7 linked regions of the Homo sapiens genome follow. The protein of the gene in region 1 purifies or fractionates together with the protein of each later gene. This does not show direct contact. Each region holds a gene or a part of one and is shown in the gene's direction. Other genes may lie near its edges. The genes, in order: EDC3, ZNF638, DENND1A, ZBTB21, ALDH18A1, SRSF12 and LRFN1.

Region 1 (3,483 bases):
GATACTGCTGGTACACAGTCCAGCCAGGCCTCTAATCCACATAGGTCCATTTCCAGTGCCCATATACTCTACACCTTGCCGCTGGGTGTGTGAATGCCATGCTCTGCTTCTTTTGATTGGGGGTGGGAGAGGTTCTCCCTGAGAGGAAGAACCCTTTTAGAGAACAAAGTGAGTCAGATTCCACAACTCTGCAGCATCCTCTGAAGGGAGCAATTCTCATCATATTTCCTCTAAATGCAGAAATGGGAAGGCGAATGGTTTGGTGTCTGGAATATAGAGTAGATTGTTAAATTCTCCAAAATGTGTTTGGGAATGGGGGCAGTTATGAAGCTCCTCTTAGCTTGACAACATCTTGTCATCTTCCTCCCTTTGGGAAACCGGTAAGTGACTATCATTGCTCTGCCACTAGGCAGGGACCTATGGCCTTGCCGTCCATCTCCTCCCTACATTGCTGCCCCGTGAGCCAACTGTGCTGCCTATGAGTTGGGCACAGCTCTGGGGCTAATCCTCTTTATCTCCTTATTTGTGGCTTCTCTGAGTCTAGAGGAGTCTCAGCTTTGAATAGCAGAAAACTGGAAGTGACAACTTCATCCAAGGCAGCTGCTAGCCTAGGAGGCCAGGTAACCCTTGGCCTGCTGCCTCCGCCATGGTCAGCACTGACTGAGTACCTTACCTTCTTTGTGTTAGGCACTGCTAAGTGCTGGGCATCCGATAATCTGCACAGCATCCTATGAAATAGATACTGTTAATGCCTGCAGCATTGCTTTCATTAACTTCAGTAAGCTACTAAGCTCAGTAAAGAGAACCATTGGCAACTGACTGAGGAGAATGGAGAGCTATGGTACTTGCTGTGAGCTTATTAGGAGTTGAGGAGAGGTAAAGGCATGAGCCAGAGTAATCCCAGCAGAGGTAAGTCTTGAACTGGATCTCCAAGAAAAGGCGGTTCAGAGTTTGGAAAGTGAAAGGCTTTCTGGGCAGGGGATGTAGTTTGAGCATAAGCAGGAAAGAGCCTTACAAGTGCAGGAGAGGATGAGACCAGCCCTGCTGGAGTGAAGCAGACACGTTGGGGAAGAAGAGCAGACAAGGCTGCAGAGGAACTATTAAGTGTTCATGGGTCAGCAAAGCGGTGTTGTGGCAACAGTGTTGTGTGGAGCAAGATCTGGGTGAACCACTTAGTGGGAGGACCCAGCAATGATGTGAGGTTGGGGTTTGGGACAACAGGAGTGCCACCCTATAGACCTGGCCTGCAGTGGATTTTGTCCCCCTCTGGAGCCTGGGACTTGGTGAGCAGTGGGTAAGAGATCTGAGACCAATAGGTGCTACAGGCAATTGTCTGGTATAGGGTGCAAGGGATTGGCAAGTATGTAGCTGATACTGCTTCTTCACCTTCTTTTCCAGGTTGAATCCCAAAAATGTTCACCAGAGGCCTACAGTGGCTCTACTGTGTGGACCTCATGTGAAGGGGGCTCAGGGTATCAGCTGTGGAAGGCACCTAGCCAACCATGATGTCCAGGTCATCCTTTTCCTGCCCAATTTTGTCAAGATGTTGGAATCTATCACCAATGAGCTGTCGCTCTTCAGCAAGACCCAAGGCCAACAAGTGTCTAGCCTCAAAGGTGAGCACTTAGGCAGGGCTGGGCTGAAGGCCTCCTCCCTCCTTAGCAGTTTGATGGTCTCGTCATGCCACCCAGTGGCGACAGGTGGAAAGGCACTACGTGTGTAAGGATGGTGCTTCGCCTCTAAGGAGTCTTAGAACAGTAATATACTACTTCCCATCCCCTTATGCTTCTCCCTCTCCAACTACTCACATGAAGAGCTGGGGACCCATTGGTCCATTCCACAAATATTCGTTGAACAGGCACTCTTCCTGATGCTAGGGATATGGCAACAGATTTTTTTAAATCCATTCTTCTGTGGAGCTTATATTCTGGTTAGGAGGAACAAAAAGACATGTAACATACTTGTGTAGTTGTAGTAAGTGATGTGGATAAAAACAAAGCAGGGAAAGGAGGCATGTTGGAGGACTGGGTGGAGAGTAGGAGACTTGGACATTTCAGGGTCAGGTCATGATGGGCCTTGGGGATGACCACAAGGATTTGGGCTTTTACTCTGGTGAGATGGGCAGTCATTGAAGGAATAAGTAGAGAAATGATATAATCAAATTTAGGTTCCAGATGATCATTCTGGGTGCTGTTTGAGAGTAGACTACACAGAGGAGTACAGAGAAGTGTCAAGATGCTGTTGTGATCATGGGAGAGAGAGATTATGGTGGCTAAGACAAGAGTGGTAGTGCCAGAGGTGGTGAAGGTAGTTAGTTTCTAAATCAGTTTTGGAGATAGAATCCACAGACTGGATGTATGGGGGGTGGGAGAAAGAGAAGAGTTGGCAATGGCTCCAAAGTTTTTGGCCTCAGTAACTGAGGTGCGATCACTGAGATGGGAAAACTTGATAGAGAAGGTTTGGGGAGGAACAGCAGAAGCTCAGCTTGAGACACCTATTGGATATGCAGGTGGAAATGTTGATAGGGAACGAGTTATATGAATCTGAAGTGAAAGGATTCAGCCTAGAGTTACAAGCCATAGGGAATATTTAAGCCATGAGGAGCCTGGATATGCTGTCACATAGGAAGAGAGTAGATACAGAAGTTGGAAAACTGAGCTCTTTATTTAGAAGTCAGGGAGTAAAGAGCCTAACCAAGGAGATGGGACAGGAATGGTCAGTGAGGGAGGAAGAAAACCAGGAGAGTATGGTAGCTGAAAGCCAAGTGAAGAAAGGAGCATGTGGTCAGTGTGTCAGCAAGCCCCGTTCTAGGTTAAGGTCAAAGGAAGACAGAATCGACCACTGGATTTAGCATCTCTGTGGAGGCTCCTGGTGAGCTTGATGAGTGGTCTTAAGTGGAGTGGTAGGGACAGAGTCTGACTGGAATGGGTTTAAATGAGAACAGCAGGGAGAAGAATTGGAGAGAGCAAATATGGCCCAGAGAAGGGACTCCACCAGAGGTCACATAGTGAGTCAAGGGCAAAGCCTGGACCAGAAACTTCACCTGCTAAGTCTCGGGCCAGGCTCCTGTGGGCACACAGAAGATAGGATGCCACTCTCACTCTTGAGAGCCTCATCACCCACAGGGACTCCCCCCGGTGGCACATTCTAAGCAAGGAAGTTGTGAGTCTCTAGCTGAGAAATGCTAATACTCTAGGCTGAGAGCTGGGAAGGGGGCCTGGTGTGGGTTCCCCTTGTAATTTTTAACATGATGCCCCCTTCCAGGCAGTTCTTCCTCTTGCTGCCCAAAAGTTTTCCTATCCCAGCTGCTCCAGGACACAAGTCTCAACGACCATTAAGTTTGGTCTGATTTATGCTATTCTCAGTTTAACTTCTTAGGCCAGTACAGGATCTACATACTTGTTGAGACATCCTTTTCTAATACTGTCCCAGAAGCCTGGTTAGAGCAGAGGAGCCTGGGAGAATAGTAATAGGTTCCCTCTT
Region 2 (3,500 bases), on another chromosome or scaffold:
CACTTGTGAATTCCTTGAACCTGGGCATTGCAAACCCACTTCTGTTGGGCCCATCTCCTTTGCACTTTGCTCAGATTAAGACTCAGTTGGCGCTTCAGCAGCTGAATGCCGTTGCCTCACATGGTTCAACACCACCTTATACTTTATTAAATCAGGCTTTCTTGAAAATAGCCATGTCGAGACCCAGGTTTAATCCTCGAGGAGACTTTCCACTTCAAAGGCCACGAGCACCTAACCCTTCTGGGATGAGGCCTCCAGGACCATTTATGAGGCCTGGATCTATGGGTCTCCCAAGATTTTACCCAGCAGGGAGAGCACGTGGAATTCCACACAGATTTGCTGGCCATGAATCTTATCAGAACATGGGGCCACAGAGAATGAATGTTCAGGTAACTCAACACAGAACTGATCCAAGATTGACCAAAGAAAAACTGGATTTTCATGAAGCACAACAGAAGAAGGGGAAGCCTCATGGTAGCCGGTGGGATGATGAGCCTCATATATCTGCATCAGTGGCAGTGAAACAGAGTTCTGTAACACAGGTTACAGAGCAGAGTCCCAAAGTACAGAGCCGCTATACAAAAGAGAGTGCCTCAAGTATCTTAGCAAGTTTTGGATTATCTAATGAAGACCTAGAAGAACTTAGTCGCTATCCTGATGAACAACTAACTCCTGAAAATATGCCATTAATTTTGAGGGATATAAGAATGCGAAAAATGGGGCGCCGATTACCTAATTTACCTTCTCAGAGCAGAAATAAAGAAACACTTGGTAGTGAAGCAGTTTCAAGTAATGTGATCGATTATGGGCATGCAAGCAAATATGGCTACACAGAAGATCCACTTGAAGTACGTATTTATGATCCTGAAATTCCAACTGATGAGGTCGAGAATGAATTTCAGTCACAGCAGAACATTTCTGCATCTGTTCCCAATCCAAATGTGATATGTAATTCTATGTTTCCTGTTGAAGACGTATTTCGCCAAATGGACTTCCCCGGTGAGTCCTCCAATAATCGGTCCTTTTTCTCAGTTGAGAGTGGAACCAAGATGTCAGGCTTACACATTTCAGGAGGACAGTCAGTCCTTGAACCCATAAAATCCGTCAACCAATCCATTAACCAAACAGTTAGCCAGACAATGAGTCAATCTCTGATTCCTCCATCTATGAACCAGCAACCTTTTTCGTCGGAATTAATTTCATCTGTAAGCCAGCAAGAGCGGATCCCACATGAACCTGTGATTAATTCATCTAACGTACATGTTGGATCAAGAGGAAGTAAAAAGAATTACCAGTCACAGGCTGACATTCCCATTCGGTCTCCCTTTGGTATTGTGAAAGCATCCTGGCTACCAAAGTTTTCACATGCTGATGCCCAGAAGATGAAGAGACTTCCAACTCCTTCTATGATGAATGATTATTATGCAGCATCTCCAAGAATATTTCCACATTTGTGTTCTCTGTGTAACGTAGAATGTAGTCATTTGAAGGTGAGTGTTTTTAAAAAAAGATCACTGTATAATGATGCTCAGCGCCAGTTTTCTCTAAATTCTGATATGTATGCTGCTTGTTAACTAGGCGTTAAGGAAATGGCAGAAGGTAATTTTAATTGCAACCTCAATACATAGTTGTAATCTTAAGTAGCCCTGGCCTTAGTACTGAATTGAATTTTAGGCTTACTGTATTCCTATGACCGGGCACACCATATTTTAGTAGTGTGTCCATTTATTTTGAACTTTTAGTTATCCCACTTACGCAACATAAAATTTATGTAACATAAGCTGCGTACTTACAAGACAATGTCACATGGAATCACCTTTCTCTAAAAGGATCTGTTAGTATAAAAATACAAAGAGATGGTATAACCCATTTGTAATGCACACATTTAAGAGACAGTATATTATAGCCTTGCACATATACACCTGTCTTGGGATAAAGACAATTAATGTTGATTTAAATATTTCCTGACTTTATGTAGACTAGTGATTTTTAGTATTTTTTGAGAAGAAGCTTTCTAAAATAACTTCATAGCAAAAATAAGTCAAGGTGCAGTAATTATTCTGGGACCAGCTGTGGACTCAGAAAATAGTGTAAAATGATAGAAATTTGTAGAGAAAAATCTTTAAAAAATAAAGATGATTTAGGTAGTTTGATAGTATAGTTAGAAGGAAGTATTTTGCAGAGGCAGTGAAGTGTACTATAATGTAGAACATACTGTTCAGTCGTAATCATTGGTAGATTTGAGCAGGAATTTCCAAGTAAATTTTATTTACTTACGTATGGTTGGCAATCACTGTTTCTTCTATTTACTAATGTGATTTATAGATTTAGATTGTAAAGGGTCAGAAGAGAATATACTAACATGGGAAAAAGCTTTGATTCAAGGCCATGGCCTGGAATTGGTTGTATACTTAGGCTTAAAAATCTGTGTGTTAACGCTCTTGTTCTTTTCTTCCAGTGCTGCCTTTCGATTTTCTTTTCATTATTTACTCACTAGGTTTTCGTCAACATGAATCTGATAATTAGATCTGTTGGTATTTTCTTAAGGTTAACTCCAGCAAAAGAAAGCAGCATTCTACCCCATTTTAGCCAGATGTGCCAAATTCTATTAAAATAATAGTTGCCTTATTCCATCAGAAGGGATAGCAAAGTCCTTACAAGGGAAAGTCTTAGAATAATTCATATCACCTAATTGTAATCTGTAAGTAGCCCTGGCCTAAGTAGTGAATTGAGTGTTTGTCTGTATTCTTGTGACTGGGCATACCACATAATTTTTTTTAATTGATTTTGAACTTTTAATTAATCATAATGAATCCAAGAAAATACATCTTTAAATAAAGAACTTGAAGTTTTGTATTCTGTAGAGTAGAAAAGGTGTACATTTAATTTAGTATGTACTTATGGATACCAGTTTTGTACTTGACTCCAATTAGGTACTGGGGCAGAAATGAGGAACTGTGTAAAATTTTAGATGTTATTAAGCAGTTTATTCAGTCTTATTGGGGAGAAAAATTATGCTCCCAAGACATTTAAAACAATTAGAAGACAACAAGTGGTTTTGTGATTGATTTAACTTGTTTGGATATGCTGTAGGGGACAGAGATTTCTGTCTTGATTTCAGGCATGTATCACTCAGGCCAGCATCATCAATTTACCAATTTAATCATTACCAATTTGCCAATTTAATTATTTTAACTATTGTATTTGTAACAGTATGTGTTTAAAAATAAGTATAAATATGCATCCTGACATCAAAAGACTTTTATAGCCTAGTTAGACTAATGGAATGTCAGTTACTAAATGCACTAAGTCTGTCTTGACTAGAATGATGTGGGAGAGAAGACTTCATGGAGTAGGTTGAAGATGGGTCTTGAATTGAGGCTTTAGATATGCCTGTATAAAGAGGAGGAGGGGGCCGGGCACAGTGGCTCACTGCCTGTAATCCCAGCACTTTGGGAGGCCGAGACAGGTGGATCACCTGAGGTCAGGAGTTCAAGACC
Region 3 (3,500 bases), on another chromosome or scaffold:
CTGCTAGCAGAAGAGCCTGTGTGACAGCCGTGCTCACTGGTGGGCGATGGATGCTGTAACCAACCCGTGCGTGTCTGCTGTGTGCCGGGCACCGCATTTGCTCATGTAACCACCACCACCACCTGAGCACCTGAGGCTCAGAGAGTTAAGTGACCTGCCAAAGGTCCCACAGCAAGAAATAGCATGACCAGAGGTGGAACCAAGGTTAGCAGGGCAAGCTTAGGCCCAGACAGCTCCCCTGGAGAGCTTCCCCAGCCCAGTTCCCCATGGGCTGTTCACAGAACCTGACTGTGGCTGTGCCTAGGCCACCAAACAAACAGCAGAGCAGGGCGGGAGCAAGAGGAGCATGACTGCTGGCCTGTGAGCCCCCTTCCAGTCCTGTCTGTTCCTCACACCTTGTCTGAATGGCTCACAAGCCCAGTAGCCAGTTTTATGAAAGGACCTGTAGTTTGGGGGGCACTAAATGGGTCCCCTGAGTGCAAGTGAGAGCCAAAGCGAGTTGCCCTGGTTCACAGCCCCAGGCCCATCGGCATGCCCAGCTTGCACCCTCGCAGCCTCCCAGACTCCTGCCCTCACGGAGACCCCGGGACACTCTCCTGTCCCGCAGGCCCCTGCGTGCACCCCTCAAGCCCTCAATGTGCTTGGGCTGGAGTCCGCTTGCTCCTCCCCTGAAGGCCTGGGTGGGAGAGTGCAGCCTGCTCTGTCCCCGACAGGCCGCAGCCGTATCGGACACTCAGGGAGTCAGACAGCGCGGAAGGCGACGAGGCAGAGAGTCCAGAGCAGCAAGTGCGGAAGTCCACAGGCCCTGTCCCAGCTCCCCCTGACCGGGCTGCCAGCATCGACCTTCTGGAAGACGTCTTCAGCAACCTGGACATGGAGGCCGCACTGCAGCCACTGGGCCAGGCCAAGAGCTTAGAGGACCTTCGTGCCCCCAAAGACCTGAGGGAGCAGCCAGGGACCTTTGACTATCAGGTATGGCATGGGCAAGGGAGGGTATCGGCCGGGGGCCGGCACTGTCCGCACACGAGGTGGGATCCCCATGTGACAGTGGAAGAGACTAAGGGAGAAACAGTGACTTTCCAAGACCCTCAGCCAATGCTCAGGGTCAGTGTGACTGTAAACACCTCCCAGGGTGCCGGGGCCCACACCACCCTAACAGTGACGGTAGGAGAAGATGCTAGAGCCCGATGGAAACTTGCCCCACTCTGTGTGTGCATCAGACGGGGGGGCGGGTGCTGCCAGCCACTCTCCTCGCACCCCCAGGCAGGGCTGCAGCCCCTGCTGGAACCGGGATTGCGTCCATCCCTGCCAGGGCTCCTTGGCAGAGCCTGTGGATGCAAGTTCTTGGCTCTGCATTATGAATGCAAATCAGTGTGTAATTCCCACTGTGACGTCTAATCCATCACATCCCCGCTCGGTGCCTCAGTTTCCTCACTTGCAAGTGGGGTCTTCTGACTTTGCATCACTGGGTCACACCGTGGGGTTCACAGAGCTCCAGTCATTCATGAGTGTTCCCTGCTGGGAACGAGGACCTGGGCCAGGAGAAAGGGACTGGCACCCGGGCCGTGTGGCTTGCAAGTGGCAGAGCCAGGACTCCAACTTGGCCTCCTCCTTCCTCCCCAGCCAAGGTGCCTCCTACCAGGCCCTGAGTCTCACTCGCGCCCCCGGGCTTACAGGTGATTGCGGGTGCCTGCGATCTAAAAAGTAAAAAGGGCCAGCCGGTAGCTGGAGTCACTTTCCTAAAACTCCTTGGCAACCGCCACTGGCATAAAGGGACGAGAGCTTTGTCTTGAGTTCCCGGAGCACAGGCTTGGAGTCCCAGCACACGTGGGTCCTCTGCTGGTAACCTGGGGGAGCCCTCAGCTGTTCCAAGTCCGAGGAGCTGATCAGCCACACAACTAGGCCCAGCACACATTCAGCACACAGAAGTGGTGTGGGAATGGGCACACATATGTCCCAACTCAGCCCGTGGTCACTGCCGCCCTCCTTCCCTCCCAACAGAGGCTGGATCTGGGCGGGAGTGAGAGGAGCCGCGGGGTGACAGTGGCCTTGAAGCTTACCCACCCGTACAACAAGCTCTGGAGCCTGGGCCAGGACGACATGGCCATCCCCAGCAAGCCCCCAGCTGCCTCCCCTGAGAAGCCCTCAGCCCTGCTCGGAAACTCCCTGGCCCTGCCTCGAAGGCCCCAGAACCGGGACAGCATCCTGAACCCCAGTGACAAGGAGGAGGTGCCCACCCCTACTCTGGGCAGCATCACCATCCCCCGGCCCCAAGGCAGGAAGACCCCAGAGCTGGGCATCGTGCCTCCACCGCCCATTCCCCGCCCGGCCAAGCTCCAGGCTGCCGGCGCCGCACTTGGTGACGTCTCAGAGCGGCTGCAGACGGATCGGGACAGGCGAGCTGCCCTGAGTCCAGGGCTCCTGCCTGGTGTTGTCCCCCAAGGCCCCACTGAACTGCTCCAGCCGCTCAGCCCTGGCCCCGGGGCTGCAGGCACGAGCAGTGACGCCCTGCTCGCCCTCCTGGACCCGCTCAGCACAGCCTGGTCAGGCAGCACCCTCCCGTCACGCCCCGCCACCCCGAATGTAGCCACCCCATTCACCCCCCAATTCAGCTTCCCCCCTGCAGGGACACCCACCCCATTCCCACAGCCACCACTCAACCCCTTTGTCCCATCCATGCCAGCAGCCCCACCCACCCTGCCCCTGGTCTCCACACCAGCCGGGCCTTTCGGGGCCCCTCCAGCTTCCCTGGGGCCGGCTTTTGCGTCCGGCCTCCTGCTGTCCAGTGCTGGCTTCTGTGCCCCTCACAGGTCTCAGCCCAACCTCTCCGCCCTCTCCATGCCCAACCTCTTTGGCCAGATGCCCATGGGCACCCACACGAGCCCCCTACAGCCGCTGGGTCCCCCAGCAGTTGCCCCGTCGAGGATCCGAACGTTGCCCCTGGCCCGCTCAAGTGCCAGGGCTGCTGAGACCAAGCAGGGGCTGGCCCTGAGGCCTGGAGACCCCCCGCTTCTGCCTCCCAGGCCCCCTCAAGGCCTGGAGCCAACACTGCAGCCCTCTGCTCCTCAACAGGCCAGAGACCCCTTTGAGGATTTGTTACAGAAAACCAAGCAAGACGTGAGCCCGAGTCCGGCCCTGGCCCCGGCCCCAGACTCGGTGGAGCAGCTCAGGAAGCAGTGGGAGACCTTCGAGTGAGCCGGGCCCTGAGGGTGGGGGATGCACCGAGGCCCGAGGGTCCGTCCACTGCTGCGGTTCCGAGGCTCCCCCGCCACTCTCTCTCTGCCCAGGTTCTGCTGGTGGGAAGGGATGGGACCCCTCTCTGCTGCCCCCTCCTCCCCTCCACACTGCCCATCTCTGATGTCTGGCCCTGGGGAATGGCACCAGTTCCAGCCTGGGAATCAACCCAGTTCCTGAGTGCCCATCCCACCCCGCGGTTGCCTCTCCTCGGCACCCTTGATTGGGTTTTGCACTAAAGAGGTCAGCTGGGCCAATGATATTGC
Region 4 (3,500 bases), on another chromosome or scaffold:
CTGCAAGACAGAGAAGCTATGGATGATAAACCAGGTGTGAGTGGTCAGCTTCCAAAAGGAAAAGCTCTAGAGCTGGCTTTGAAGAGACCACGGCCACCTGTTTTGTCTGTTTGTAGCTCATCAGAGACTCCCTATCTATTAAAAGAAACTAACAAAGGAAATGGTCAAGGTGAAGATAGAAACTTGTTGTACTATTCAAAGTTAGGCTTAGTGATCCCATCCAGTGGATCTGGTTCTGGAAACCAAAGCATTGACAGGAGTGGCCCACTTGTTAAGAGTCTCCTCAGACGGTCATTGTCGATGGATAGCCAGGTTCCTGTCTATTCACCTTCCATAGATTTGAAATCTTCCCAGGGATCATCTTCGGTGTCCAGTGATGCACCAGGGAATGTGTTGTGTGCTTTATCTCAGAAGTCATCTTTAAAAGATTGTAGTGAAAAAACAGCCCTAGATGACAGGCCTCAAGTGCTACAACCGCATCGCCTCAGGTCCTTTAGTGCTTCTCAGTCAACAGACAGGGAGGGAGCTTCCCCTGTGACTGAGGTGCGCATAAAGACTGAGCCCAGCAGCCCGCTGTCGGACCCCTCGGACATCATCCGCGTCACTGTGGGAGATGCGGCAACAACAGCAGCTGCCTCATCTTCGTCGGTCACAAGAGACCTGTCTCTGAAAACAGAAGATGACCAAAAAGACATGAGCAGACTCCCAGCAAAAAGGAGGTTCCAAGCGGACCGAAGATTGCCGTTTAAGAAGTTAAAGGTGAATGAGCACGGGTCTCCTGTGTCAGAAGATAATTTTGAGGAAGGCTCAAGCCCTACTCTCCTTGATGCAGATTTTCCAGATTCTGATTTGAATAAAGACGAATTTGGTGAGTTGGAGGGGACGAGACCAAACAAAAAATTTAAATGCAAACATTGCCTTAAGATCTTTAGATCAACAGCAGGTCTTCACCGTCATGTTAACATGTACCATAACCCAGAAAAGCCCTACGCTTGTGACATCTGTCACAAGAGGTTTCACACCAACTTCAAAGTGTGGACACACTGTCAGACCCAACACGGCATAGTGAAGAACCCATCACCAGCCTCTAGTTCACATGCTGTTTTGGATGAAAAATTCCAAAGAAAGCTGATTGACATAGTGAGAGAGAGAGAAATTAAGAAGGCCCTGATCATTAAGTTAAGGCGCGGCAAGCCTGGTTTTCAGGGACAGAGTAGCTCCCAAGCACAGCAAGTCATCAAGAGGAACTTGAGATCTCGAGCCAAAGGAGCTTACATTTGTACTTACTGCGGAAAAGCGTACCGCTTTCTCTCTCAATTTAAGCAGCATATAAAAATGCATCCAGGAGAAAAACCCCTTGGAGTAAATAAAGTTGCTAAACCAAAAGAGCATGCTCCTCTTGCAAGTCCAGTAGAAAACAAGGAGGTTTACCAGTGCCGCCTCTGTAATGCTAAGCTCTCTTCTCTCCTAGAGCAAGGAAGCCACGAGCGGCTGTGCCGGAACGCGGCCGTCTGCCCTTACTGCAGCCTCAGGTTTTTCTCGCCCGAGCTGAAGCAAGAACACGAGAGCAAGTGTGAGTATAAGAAGCTGACCTGCCTCGAGTGCATGCGCACCTTCAAGTCCTCTTTCAGCATCTGGCGGCACCAGGTTGAAGTCCATAATCAGAACAACATGGCACCCACCGAAAACTTTTCTTTGCCCGTTTTGGACCACAATGGTGATGTGACTGGTTCTTCAAGGCCCCAATCCCAGCCTGAGCCCAACAAAGTAAACCACATCGTCACCACAAAAGACGACAACGTGTTCAGTGATTCTTCAGAACAAGTTAACTTCGACTCGGAAGATTCCTCTTGTCTTCCCGAAGACCTTAGTCTTTCCAAGCAACTGAAAATCCAAGTCAAAGAGGAGCCTGTGGAGGAGGCTGAAGAAGAGGCACCCGAGGCCAGCACAGCCCCCAAAGAAGCGGGTCCTAGCAAAGAAGCCAGCCTGTGGCCCTGCGAGAAGTGTGGGAAGATGTTCACGGTGCATAAGCAGCTGGAGCGTCACCAGGAGCTTCTGTGCTCTGTGAAACCATTTATTTGTCACGTGTGCAACAAAGCTTTTCGCACTAATTTTCGACTCTGGAGTCACTTCCAATCGCACATGTCTCAGGCTTCAGAGGAATCGGCACATAAGGAATCTGAGGTGTGCCCTGTTCCCACAAACTCTCCCTCTCCACCACCTCTGCCACCGCCACCACCACTGCCCAAGATCCAGCCTCTGGAGCCTGACAGCCCCACAGGCCTGTCCGAAAACCCAACTCCAGCCACAGAAAAACTGTTTGTGCCCCAAGAATCAGACACCCTTTTTTACCATGCCCCACCCCTTTCAGCAATCACATTTAAAAGACAGTTTATGTGTAAACTTTGCCACAGGACATTCAAGACTGCATTTAGTCTTTGGAGTCACGAACAAACACACAATTGAAAGACCAACACTTTTTACCTATGGGAGGCAGTCCCCAGATTTCAACCTGAATTGTGAAATGTGTCATAAGAAACAAAATATTTTTTAAACAAGAATAATAAAGGTTGGAGATTGTTACGCTTGAAATTAAGTTGGAGGCAAATTGATAATTACTTAGTAATGTCCTTAACTTTAGAAATACAGCTTTTAAAATATTGTGGTTCTGGACCTTACAAGAACAAGATGGTTTGATTTCATTAATGTTGAAATTGGATTAGTCTTGATTGTGTGCATGGTTCCTCATTCCATGGTGTCAGTATAATCATTTAATTGAGGTTTTTGGTTTTTTATTGATTAGTGGAATACTGTCGAAGTATTCCTTCTTTTAATTATTTTAGACACTTGAGTTCTAGTTAAATCTTAACCATGTTCTTAAGTCCAAAATAGGAAGAAGTGGAGTAGTTTGCAGTATTGATTTATATCTTAGACTACTTTAGCAATAAAAGATAAATCTCAACTTTAATAAGTTATCCTGACACTTGATAAAAATAAATATTTGGTATTTTGTGGTCATGTAAAACTTCTTTTTGTATGAAAATTGTGAGAAATTTAAATCAGCAATAGTAACACTTAGATTTTTATAAACTAACAAAAACTTGCTCTCAGTCAATATAATAAATGATAGTTAAACTCTAAGGAAGACCTGGGAAATGAAAACAATTTATGGAAGTCCCCTACAGTCAGTTTATAAGGGCTTCAGTAGTGATAGACATTGTTATAAAAACTTGTACCATGTTACATGTACACTGCACCACAGTCTAAATTCAGACCAGCATTTGAAGGACTGCACATATTTCATTTCCTCTGATTTATGCTGTCACAAATTGAAAATCTGAGTGTAGTTAGGACAAAAAACAAAGCTAACCATATGGCACTAATTTTGATTTTAACATTAGTGTAACAAATAAGGTCGGGACATATATTTACATAGATCCCAGACACTCAAGAATTAGCACAGCTGATGTAAAATTCTAAATTACCATTTACTTCCAGAT
Region 5 (3,500 bases), on another chromosome or scaffold:
TTTGCATCTCAATTTGAGCAAGGTAAAAAAAAATTGGAAAAATATGAACACTGGCTATTTGATATGAAGGAAATCATTGAAATATTCCAGATAATGGATTTGTGGAGAGAGAAAGACATATAATTATATATTATATATAATATATATGATTATCTTTTAGCAGTTATTACTGAGCTATTTACAGATGAAATAACATGTCTGTTGCCTGGAATTTGTATTAAAACAATGGTGAGGGTATAGAGGGGTTATTGGAGAGTGGGAAGTTGGCCATGAGAGATAGTTGGTGAAACTGGGTGGTATGTACATGGGGATTTATAATACTATTCTCAGCACTTTGGTTAAGTATTAAATTTTCTTTTTCTTTTTCTTTTTATTTATTTTAGAGAGAGGGTCTTGCTCTGTCACCTAGACTGGAATGCAGTGGTGTAATCATAGTTCACTGCAGCCCTGAACTCCAGGGCTCAGTTGGGATCCTTCTTCAGCCTCCTGAGTAGCTGGGACTACAGGCACATGCTACTTGGCTATTATTTTTTTTAATTTTTCATAGATATGGGGTCTTACTATTTTGCTCAGGCTGGTTTCGAATTCCTGGCCTCAAGCAGTCGTCCCACCTCAGCCAGCTGAAACTTTCTGTGATAAAATATTATTGTCGGGGCCAGGCACAGTGGCTCACACCTGTAATCCCAGCACTTTGGGAAGCCAAGGTGGCTACTCAAGGGGCTGAGGTCAGGGGGTTGCTTGAGTCCTGGAGGTCAGGGCTACAGTGAGCCATGATTGTGCCACTGTCCTCCAGCATGGGTGACAAAGCAAGACTGTGTTTCAAAAAAAAAAAAGTTATTATTGTTTTAAATCATGGTTTATCATAGCTGTTTGTTAAACAGCTGGACCAGTTAAAAGGTTTCAGACATCAGAAGGAAAGGACAGTTTAGGAATATTGACTTTATTACATCTTGAGTCTTTAATTTTTTCATGTAGGTCTGCTTAAGGTAGGAAACAAAGTGACCGCATTTGGTCTTGGGCAGACAGAGCAGAACAAGGTCAGCATGTGCCCCTGGTGTAGGCAGAGGCAACCCATAGGATTAGACATGCCACCAGAACAGCCTCCTTTACCCGGGTTAAGCCTTAGAACCTGAGAAGCCATCTACTGAGTCTGCGTTGCATTTCCTACCTGCGGACTTTTATTCTGGGCTTCATTTCTTGGAGGAACTAGGCCTTCTGCATTACACACTCCCTGCAAATATTAGGTTGGCACAAAAGTAATTGTGGTTTTTGCCATTACTGTCAATGGTAAAACTGCAATTACTTTTGCACCAACCTAATACAGTCAAGTCCTATAGATGTCAAACTTGGCTACACACCAGAATTTCCTCATTAAAAATGTCTTACTTAGGCCAGGCATGGTGGCTCATGTCTGTAATCCCAATGCTTTGGGAGGCCGTGGCAGGAGGATGGATTAAGACCAGAAGTTTGAGGCCAGCCTGGGCAACATAGTGAGACTCTGTTTCTACAAAAATGTGTTAAAAAAGAAAAATTAGCTGGGCATGGTGGCATGAGCCTGTAGTTCCAGCTACTTGTGAGGCTGAGGCAGGAGGATCACTTGAGCCTAGGCAGCCAAGGCTGCAGTGAGCCACATTCATGCCACGGCACTCCAGCCTGGGCGACAGAGCAAGACTCTGCCTTAAAAAAATTTTTTTCTTAGGGTGTTGTTGTTGTTGTTGTTGTTGTTGTTGTTGTTGTTGTTGTTTTTGAGACAGCATCTCTCTCATTCTATTGCCCAGGTTGGAGTGTGGTGGTGCGATCATGGGTTACTGCAGTCTTAACCTCCCTGAGCTCAGGTGATCCTCCTACCTCAGCCTCCCAAGTAGCTGGCATGCACTACCATGCCTGGCTAAATTTTGTACTTTTTGTAGAGATTGGGTCTTGCCATGTTGCCTGGGTGGTCTTGAACCTCCTGGGCTCAGGCATTGTGCCTGCCTTGGCCTCCCAAAGTGCTGGGATTACAGGCATGAGCCACCATGCCCAGCCAATTGTTTTAATTAAAAAATAAATTAAAATGTCTGATTTTTGTCTGCCACCTGCTAAATAGAAATTTGAGACAGGATGTAGGAATCTGTGTTTTTACCAATCTGGCTGATTCTTCCAGAGCCAGCCACATGCTGGTTCATAAACCAGCATTTGGGATCTACTCGATAGCCCACCCTACCTCCATCCCTTGTGAAGAGATGAAAGAGACAGTACGGTAACTTACAGTCCCCTTTCCTTTCTCAATGCCCAGGTATCAGTGCTGCAGAATCAGGGCAGAGAGATGATGCTGGTGACCAGTGGAGCCGTAGCCTTTGGCAAACAACGCTTGCGCCATGAGATCCTTCTGTCTCAGAGCGTGCGGCAGGCCCTCCACTCGGGGCAGAACCAGCTGAAAGAAATGGTGAGTGCTGCTTCCCCACACATTGAAATGGATCTTCAGGTCTTCTTCCCTCATTCCCTACCACACCTTGTCTCATTGGTATATTACAGGCAATTCCAGTCTTAGAGGCACGAGCCTGTGCAGCTGCCGGACAGAGTGGGCTGATGGCCTTGTATGAGGCTATGTTTACCCAGTACAGCATCTGTGCTGCCCAGGTGAGAGGCTGGGCTTTGAAATGGGTGTGGGACCTGTGAGGGTGGTTGTTGTGGAACAAAGGGGTCTGGAGCCAGACTATTGGAATATGGTGTCAGCTTCATCACTTGCTACTTGAGATCTGAAGAAAGTTTCTTTTCCTTTTTGTGCCTCAGTTTCCTCATCTGAAAATGGGGATAATATCAGTGCCTATTTCAGATAATTTTTGGAAGGGCTCAGTGAGAAAATATATGAAAAGCATTTAGTATAGTGTTTGGTACATAATACATTGTCAGTAAATATCAGTTCTTGTTACACTAATAACTTAGGATTCCAAGTGCTAACACTTCTGAAGACAGAGAAGTTAAATGTCTTTATTTCACTGGCTTCTTTGATTTCAGGTGGCTTGCTTCTCTTTGCACCTGGTTGGTTGCCTTTTATAGCAGATATTTATTAAGCTTTGAAGGGAAAGAGGAATGCTGGTGATTGGTTGGTTTTTCACTCATTCAGCAAATATTTATTGAGCACCTATGGTGTACCTAGCAGTCTTGGGCATTGGGGATACTGTGGTGAACAAATCAGACATGATTCCAGTCCTCATGGGACTTACGAATTTTTGGTGGCTACCCCTAAATGTTCTAGAACCTTCTTTCTACATTGTTTCATTTTTACCTAAATCTCCTGAATTTTTTTGAATTATATTCTTAATCAACTGTACAACTACACACTAGAGACATCTCAATAACAGTCACTTCAGGAAACAACTGAAAAAAAAATCTAACTCCCAAATTATTTTATTTTGAAATTCCTTTACCTGTAAAGATGTAAAATAGCTGTTATTTTATATTATGGATATTATTTTACATGTACACTACATGCACAGATGTTATTTTACACAGGTGAT
Region 6 (3,500 bases), on another chromosome or scaffold:
TGAGCAGAAAAAAAAAGTAAAAAAAAATACATACTCAGCCGCGTGCAGTGGCTCACACTTATGATCCCAGCACTTTGAGAGGCTGAGGTGGGCAGATCTCGAGGTCAGGAGTTCAAGACCAAACTGACCAACATGATGAAACCCCGCCTCTACTAAAAATACAAAAATTAGCTGGGTGTGGTAGCCACGCACCTGTAATCCCAGCTACTCAGGAGGTTGAGGCAGGAGAATCACTTGAACCTGGGAGGCGGAGGTTGCAGTGAGCTGAGATCACGCCATTGCACTCCAGCCTGAGCGACAGAGCGAGACTCCGTCTCAAAACAAAAAGCAAAAAAAAAAAAAAAAAAAGGTGATGAGTTTTAGATAAATAAAATTTTCCTAAATGTGCCCAACAGTTTGTAATCTTCAACTTTAAAAATGTTTAAATGTGTAAGAAATACAATAAAATGTCCAGGTGCCATAATCTCAGCACTTTGGGAGGCTGAGGTGGGAGTATCACTTGAGGCCAGGAGTTTGAGACTAGCCTGGCCAACATGGTGAGACTCCGTCTCTCCAAAAAAAAAAAAAAAAAAAAAAAAAAGAAATATAATAAAATCCCTTGTGAAAGGTGGTTGACTAAAGTTAATGTAAATCAATTTACTTATAAAAGATAAGTTATCAAGAATAAATTCCAAGTATGGCAGTATTGAAGAAGACATATTAAATAGTAATTTGGGGGCAGGGGAAAAGATATTTTCAAGTTATTTATTTTGCTAGCCAGGAGTTTATTTCTATTAGAATAATAGTGAATCACAACAGAAATTAATTATATGGACCAGGTGCAGTGGCTCACGCCTGTAATCCCAGCACTTTGGGAGGCCAAGGCGGGTGGATTACTTGAGGTCAGGAGTTCAAGACCATCCTGAGCAATATGGTGAAATCCTGTCTCTACTAAAAATTCAGGCCAGGCGCAGTGGCTTACGCCTGTAATCCCAGCACTTTGGGAGGCCAGGGCGGGGGCGGATCACCTGAGGTCAGGAGTTCGAGACCAGTCTGGCCAACATGGCGAAACCCCGTGTCTACTAAAAATACAAAAATTAGGTGGGTGTGGTGGCACAGGCCTGTAATCCCAGCTACTTGGGAGGCTGAGGCAGGAGAATCGCTTGAACCTGGGAGGCAGAGGTTGCAGTGAGCTGAGATCACGCCACTGCTCTCCAGCCTGGGTGACAAAGCGAGACTCTGTCTCAAAAAAAAAAAAAAAGAATTTAAATTGATTGTTTCTAAATGCATTACAGCCTTAGTGAACCAGTTTTTTTCTCTTGCTTGATTTAAATAAGGTGGATATTCACATCATTTTCTGCCTTCTAGTGGAAGTAAAGTATAATACTTGACTGTCTCAAATCATCCTGGAGTATCAGGGATGGAAGGACCACATCTTTCAGGGCAATGCTATTCTGCTTTGTACTTGTTATAAGACCATTGCTTAACCTCCCTGACACCAGTTTTTCTCATTTTAAAAACTGTCTTATGGCCAGGTGCAGTGGCTCACACCTGTGATCCCAGCACTCTGGGAGGCCAGGGTGAGATCACTTGAGTCCAGGAATTTGAGAGACCAGCCTGGGCAACATAGTGAGACCCCCATGTCTACAAAAACTAAAAAAAATTAGCCACGTGTGGTGGCACACACCTGTTCCAGCTACTGGGAGGGAGGGAGAGGGTGGACTGAGGTGTGAGGACTCCTTGAGCCCAGTAGGTCAAGGCTGCAGTGAGCCATGATTGCACCACTGCACTCCAACCTGGGCAACAGAGGAAGACTCTGTCTCACAACAAATAAATAAATAAATTATTAAAATGTAAAAAAAGGTATTCTGTAAATCTTTGTTAACTTTATATCAAGGAATGTGTATGTTAGAACTCTAAATGTTCCTGAACAGTGTTAAAATTGCTCCTCAACTCCCTTTTCTTTAGTCCAAATATATTATAGCGTCCTTCTTTTACTATGTTAGGATTTTTTTTCAAGGACATTTTCTTCATTTTGCTTCCTACAGCTGTCTACAAAATGAATGAAATTTAATAATTTCTAAAAGACTGTGAATTTATTCCAGAATATATTCTACATCAATGTATTTTCAGTATAAATATATAATAAAAAATTCAAGAGAGGCCAGGTGCAGTGGCTCATGCCTGTCATCTCAGCACTTTGGGAGGCTGAGGCAGGTGACTTGAGGTCAGACATGCCTGGCCAACATGGCGAAACCCCATCTCTACTAAAAATACAAAAATTAGCCAGGTATGGTGGCACGTGCCTGTAATCCCAGCTACTTGGGAGGTTGAGGCAGGAGAATCGCTTGAACCCGGGAGACAGAGGTTGCAGTGAGCCAAGCTCGCCCCACTGCACTCCAGCCTGAGTGACAGAGCAAGACTCTGTCTCAGAAACAAACAAACAAAACCAAAAATTGAAGAGGCTCTACATGGTGTTATCATTCTCCAAAGAAAGCTTTTTAAATTTCTTCATCTAGTTCAATGTTACTATCTAGTATCATTTTTCTTCAGTCTAAAGAATATTTAGTATTTCTTTTTTTCCTCTTTCAGCTCACCGAGAAGTACCAGGGCAGTGAATATTTAGTATTTCTTATAGTACACATCTGCTGATAGTGAATTATCTCAGCTTTTGTCTGAAAACATCTTTATTTAAAATTCATTTGTGAGAAATATTTTTGCTGAGGATAGAATTCTATATTGGCAGTGATTTTATTTTTCTCTTTAAAAATGTCATTCCATTGTTTTTCTGATACCCATAGTGAGTTGTCAGTCTTGTGGTTGCTCCTTTGAAAGAAATTTGTCTTTCATTCTCTGGCAAGGTTTTCAGATTTATTTTTATTTTTATTTTTTTTTGAGACAGAGTCTCACTCTGTCACCTGGGCTGGAGTGCAGTGGCACAATCTCGGCTCACTACAACCTCCGCCTCCCAGATTCAAGCGATTCTCCTGCCTCAGCCTCCCGCCACCACACCCAGCTAATTTTTGTATTTTTAGTAGAGGCGGAGTTTCTCCATGTTGGCCAGGCTGGTCTGGAACTCCTGACCTCAGGTGATCCACCTGCCTCAGCCTCCCAAAGTGCTGGGATGACAGGCATGAGCCACCGCACCCGGCCGGTTTTCAGATTTTTTCTTTGACTTTGGTTTTCATCAGTTTCACTGTGATGTGCCCAGTGTAGTTTTCTTTGCCTATGTGGGGTTTATTGAGCTTTTTGAAATTGTGAGTTAATGCTTTTTGTTAGTTTTGTAAAATTCTATGCTATTATCTCTTCAAATATTGCTTCTGCCTTATTCAGTCTTTCCTCTGGCTTGTGTGACTGTATGCTATACATCTGCTGTGTTCTTTTAGGGATTTCTTAAAATTCCTTTTCTCACACTGTATTTCGGTAGGATGTTTTTCTAATGATCTTTTAGTTAACTATTTCTTTTCTTTTTTTTTTTTTTTTGTCTTGGAGGTTTTCTCTTGTTGCCCAGGTTGGGGTGC
Region 7 (3,500 bases), on another chromosome or scaffold:
GTGACCCCGAGCCGGTGGTGCACTGGGTGGCACCTGATGGGCGGCTGCTGGGGAACTCCAGCCGGACCCGGGTCCGGGGGGACGGGACGCTGGATGTGACCATCACCACCTTGAGGGACAGTGGCACCTTCACTTGTATCGCCTCCAATGCTGCTGGGGAAGCGACGGCGCCCGTGGAGGTGTGCGTGGTACCTCTGCCTCTGATGGCACCCCCGCCGGCTGCCCCGCCGCCTCTCACCGAGCCCGGCTCCTCTGACATCGCCACGCCGGGCAGACCAGGTGCCAACGATTCTGCGGCTGAGCGTCGGCTCGTGGCAGCCGAGCTCACCTCGAACTCCGTGCTCATCCGCTGGCCAGCCCAGAGGCCTGTGCCCGGAATACGCATGTACCAGGTTCAGTACAACAGTTCCGTTGATGACTCCCTCGTCTACAGGTGGGTGCGGGTGCTGCAGTCCCAGGGCCTCCTCCCAAGCCCAGGGGGACCCTCCCTCCCACCTGCCCATTCCCTTGGCCTTCTTGCTCAGCCAGGGTTCTAGATGGCTGTGAGAGCTGTTCCCGCCCTCCTTTGCCCTGTCTCCTCTCTCTATTTCTCACTGTCTCTGTTTTTCGTGCTTATAGAAAATATTCGCTGAGCACCTACATGAACCCGACCAGGGCTGGGCACTGGAGTCCTAACAGTGACTGAGCTCAGCATGAACCCTGCCCTCATGGGGCTCATGGTCGATATCACTGCTCCCCACAACAATCTGATTGTGCACCTCTTCAGTTAAACATTTTGGAGCATGAAACACACACACACATTTACAGTGACATTTATTTATTTGTTTGTTTTGAGACTGAGCCTTACTCTATTGCCCAGGCTGGAGTGCAGTGGCACGAACTCAGCTCACTGAAACCCTCCGCCTCCCGGGTTCAAGCGAATCTCGTCCCTCAGCCTCCCAAGTAGCTGGGATTACAGATACCCACCAACACACCCAGCTAAGTTTTGTATTTTTAGTAGAGACAGGATTTTACCATGTTGGGCAGGCTGGTCTTGAACTCCTGACCTCAAGTGATCCGCCTGCCTTGGCCTCCTAAATTGCTGGGATTACAGGTGTGAGCCACCGTGCCTAGCCTACAGCGACATTTATATTTATAAATTATATACCAGTACTACTGAACCAACACATTGGGTACATTACAGAAACAGAAAACAAAACGTATGAGAAAAATATGTTATTTCCACCCTCACTTGGGTTTGAAGCCATTGCCCTGGTGGGGACAGACCATACGGTGTCAACAGACATTTTAAAAAAAGAGTTATTTTCTCCCATCGCCTCCTTATTTCTCCTTTCACCTCTCTGTCTGTCTCTACCTTCTCTGCCCTCGTTAGGCACAGAGCCCCTGCTTTGTGCAAACTCCTGAGCTGGGTGCTGGGGACACAGGGAAACCACCCAGACCCTGTCCTCAGGGAGCTTATAGCCCAGTAGGTCGTGGTCCATAGTACACTATGAGTTGCAGTCCTGGCCTTGCCATGTCTCTCCATCTCAGTAGTTTTTTTTTTTCTTTTTCTTTTTTTTTTTTGGCAGGGTCTTGCTCTGTCACCCCAGGCTGGAGTGCAGTGGTATGATCATAGCTCACTGCAGCCTCAAACTTTTGGGCTCCAAGCAATCCTCCTACCTCCTGAGAGTAGCTGGGACTATAGGTGTGCACCACCACACTGGGCTAATTTAAAAAAATTTTTAGTAGAGATGAGGTCTTGCTATATTGCCCAGACAGGTCTTGAACTCCTGGGCTGAAGTGATCCTCCTGCCTTGGCCTCCCAAAGTGCTGGGATTACAGGTGTGAGCCGCTGCACCTGGCCCATCTTGGTAGTTTTTTAGTATGGCTCTCTGCCACAGAATTGTCACACAGTAGGCACTTGATAAATGGTAGTTTGCCACATGGATGTCTCTCCTTCTAGCTCTGCCTCCCTCATGCACATTGTAGAGCACCAGTTAAATGCTTCAGTCATCTGCTTGGCTTCACCTGGAGATGCCAGCGGGGCTGGAGCTGTTTCCCTACCTGTGGAGAGCCCCAGCTCCTGGCTGTCAGATCTTCACCGAGAAACCTGCCTCTTGGCCTCCATCTCTGCCTTTCCAGTGTTTTCTTGGCCATAGGTGTGGCACATAGTAGGTGCTTTCCCAGTGTTGGTTGAATGAAAAAAATGCCTCTTGGCCGGGCGCGATGGCTCATGCCTATAATCCCAGCATTTTGGGAGGCTGAGGCGGGCGGATCACTTGAGGTCAGGAGTTCAAGACCAGCCTGGCCAACATGGTGAAACCCTGTCTCTACGGAAAATACAAAAATTAGGCAGATGTGGTGGCACGTGCCTGTAATCCCAGCTACTCAGGAGGCTGAGGCAGGAGAATCGCTTGAACCTGGGAGGCGGAGGTTGCAGTGAGCGGAGATTGCGCCATTGGGTGACAGAGCGAGACTCCCTCTGGAAAAAAAAAAAAAAAAAAAAAAAGCCTCCCTTTTCTTTTGTCTCTGTCTTCCTCATTTCCCTCTCTTTTTGATTCTGGTCCCAAACACTGAGTAGATGCCTACTGTGTGCCCATCTTGTGTTGGGCCCTGGGCCTACTGAGATAGGTTAGATCCTGGCCCAGCCTTACAAACATGAGGACAAACAAATGAACAAAACACAAACCTTCACAACGAACTTCCAAGCTTGATCTTCCCAGCTCCGCTATGAAGGCGTGATGACCCCCTCTCCATTTCAAAGACAGAAAAACTGAGGTTCAGTGGGGGATGTCACTTGCCCAAGGTCACACAGAAAGTAGCAAAGCTGTCCTTTATACACTGACACACATTTGTTGGGCACCCACTGCTTGGAAGGGAGATGGATAATATATTTCTGTAAATAATTCTGAGCTTCTGTGACTCTCCACTTCTCTGTCCCTCTCTTTCCTTTGCTCTGAGCCATGGCCACCACATGGTGGGGTGGGGGAGGTTCACAAGCCCCCAGACCCTGCATGGATGCAGATGTTGATGGCCCCCTGTCCCCAGCTGGGCAACAGACCCTGGGACTCTTCTCTTCCCTGTAGGGCCCCAGTTCCAGTTCTCCAACCCCCATTGCAGATTCCTATGCTATGGTGCCGCAGGGGTTAACTTCCTCACGCTGTCATGGGCGGAGGTGGCAGCCAACCAGAAGCCTGCTTAGCTGCTTGCTTTAATTCTGCAGCCAATTAGAGACACTTGGGCTGAAGCTTTCTTAAGGAGCCAGCCTCTGTCCTTGAAAAGGGGTGGGGGAAGCCCCTAGCAACTGGCTATTTAGGGGAAGGAGCAAGTGGAATCCAGGGCTCTGGAGAGGAGAGATGAAGAGAGGAGGAGGAAGGCTTAAAGCCAGGGCAGCCGAGGGTGGCTGGGGTGGGTGGCAGTGGTCTTTGAAATGGCAGTCAGGGGTGGGTAGAGTGGAGTTGGAGAAGTGGGTGGACCTTTATGAAGGGGCGGGGCCCTGATTGGAAGTCTTTTGGTGGGAG

The links.
Region 2: the proteins of EDC3 (region 1) and ZNF638 purify together in Homo sapiens (affinity purification with mass spectrometry, with the first as the bait; one large-scale study listed by BioGRID). This does not show direct contact.
Region 3: the proteins of EDC3 (region 1) and DENND1A purify together in Homo sapiens (affinity purification with mass spectrometry, with the first as the bait; one large-scale study listed by BioGRID). This does not show direct contact.
Region 4: the proteins of EDC3 (region 1) and ZBTB21 purify together in Homo sapiens (affinity purification with mass spectrometry, with the first as the bait; one large-scale study listed by BioGRID). This does not show direct contact.
Region 5: the proteins of EDC3 (region 1) and ALDH18A1 purify together in Homo sapiens (affinity purification with mass spectrometry; one large-scale study listed by BioGRID and IntAct). This does not show direct contact.
Region 6: the proteins of EDC3 (region 1) and SRSF12 purify together in Homo sapiens (affinity purification with mass spectrometry, with the first as the bait; one large-scale study listed by BioGRID). This does not show direct contact.
Region 7: the proteins of EDC3 (region 1) and LRFN1 purify together in Homo sapiens (affinity purification with mass spectrometry, with the first as the bait; one large-scale study listed by BioGRID). This does not show direct contact.

The regions. Positions count from the first base shown.
Region 1 is NC_000015.10:74,633,542-74,637,024, reverse strand, and holds part of EDC3 (enhancer of mRNA-decapping protein 3), read left to right. Parts: intron 1-1,398; coding exon 1,399-1,616; intron 1,617-3,483. UniProt on the Homo sapiens protein: Binds single-stranded RNA. Involved in the process of mRNA degradation and in the positive regulation of mRNA decapping. May play a role in spermiogenesis and oogenesis.
Region 2 is NC_000002.12:71,348,782-71,352,281, forward strand, and holds part of ZNF638 (zinc finger protein 638), read left to right. Parts: 5' UTR 1-173; coding exon 174-1,490; intron 1,491-3,500.
Region 3 is NC_000009.12:123,381,127-123,384,626, reverse strand, and holds part of DENND1A (DENN domain-containing protein 1A), read left to right. Parts: intron 1-713; coding exon 714-972; intron 973-2,001; coding exon 2,002-3,195; 3' UTR 3,196-3,500. UniProt on the Homo sapiens protein: Guanine nucleotide exchange factor (GEF) regulating clathrin-mediated endocytosis through RAB35 activation. Promotes the exchange of GDP to GTP, converting inactive GDP-bound RAB35 into its active GTP-bound form.
Region 4 is NC_000021.9:41,989,861-41,993,360, reverse strand, and holds part of ZBTB21 (zinc finger and BTB domain-containing protein 21), read left to right. Parts: coding exon 1-2,466; 3' UTR 2,467-3,500. UniProt on the Homo sapiens protein: Acts as a transcription repressor.
Region 5 is NC_000010.11:95,636,212-95,639,711, reverse strand, and holds part of ALDH18A1 (delta-1-pyrroline-5-carboxylate synthase), read left to right. Parts: intron 1-2,275; coding exon 2,276-2,425; intron 2,426-2,514; coding exon 2,515-2,619; intron 2,620-3,500. UniProt on the Homo sapiens protein: Bifunctional enzyme that converts glutamate to glutamate 5-semialdehyde, an intermediate in the biosynthesis of proline, ornithine and arginine.
Region 6 is NC_000006.12:89,101,072-89,104,571, reverse strand, and holds part of SRSF12 (serine/arginine-rich splicing factor 12), read left to right. Parts: intron 1-3,500. UniProt on the Homo sapiens protein: Splicing factor that seems to antagonize SR proteins in pre-mRNA splicing regulation.
Region 7 is NC_000019.10:39,310,864-39,314,363, reverse strand, and holds part of LRFN1 (leucine-rich repeat and fibronectin type III domain-containing protein 1 precursor), read left to right. Parts: coding exon 1-433; intron 434-3,500. UniProt on the Homo sapiens protein: Promotes neurite outgrowth in hippocampal neurons. Involved in the regulation and maintenance of excitatory synapses. Induces the clustering of excitatory postsynaptic proteins, including DLG4, DLGAP1, GRIA1 and GRIN1.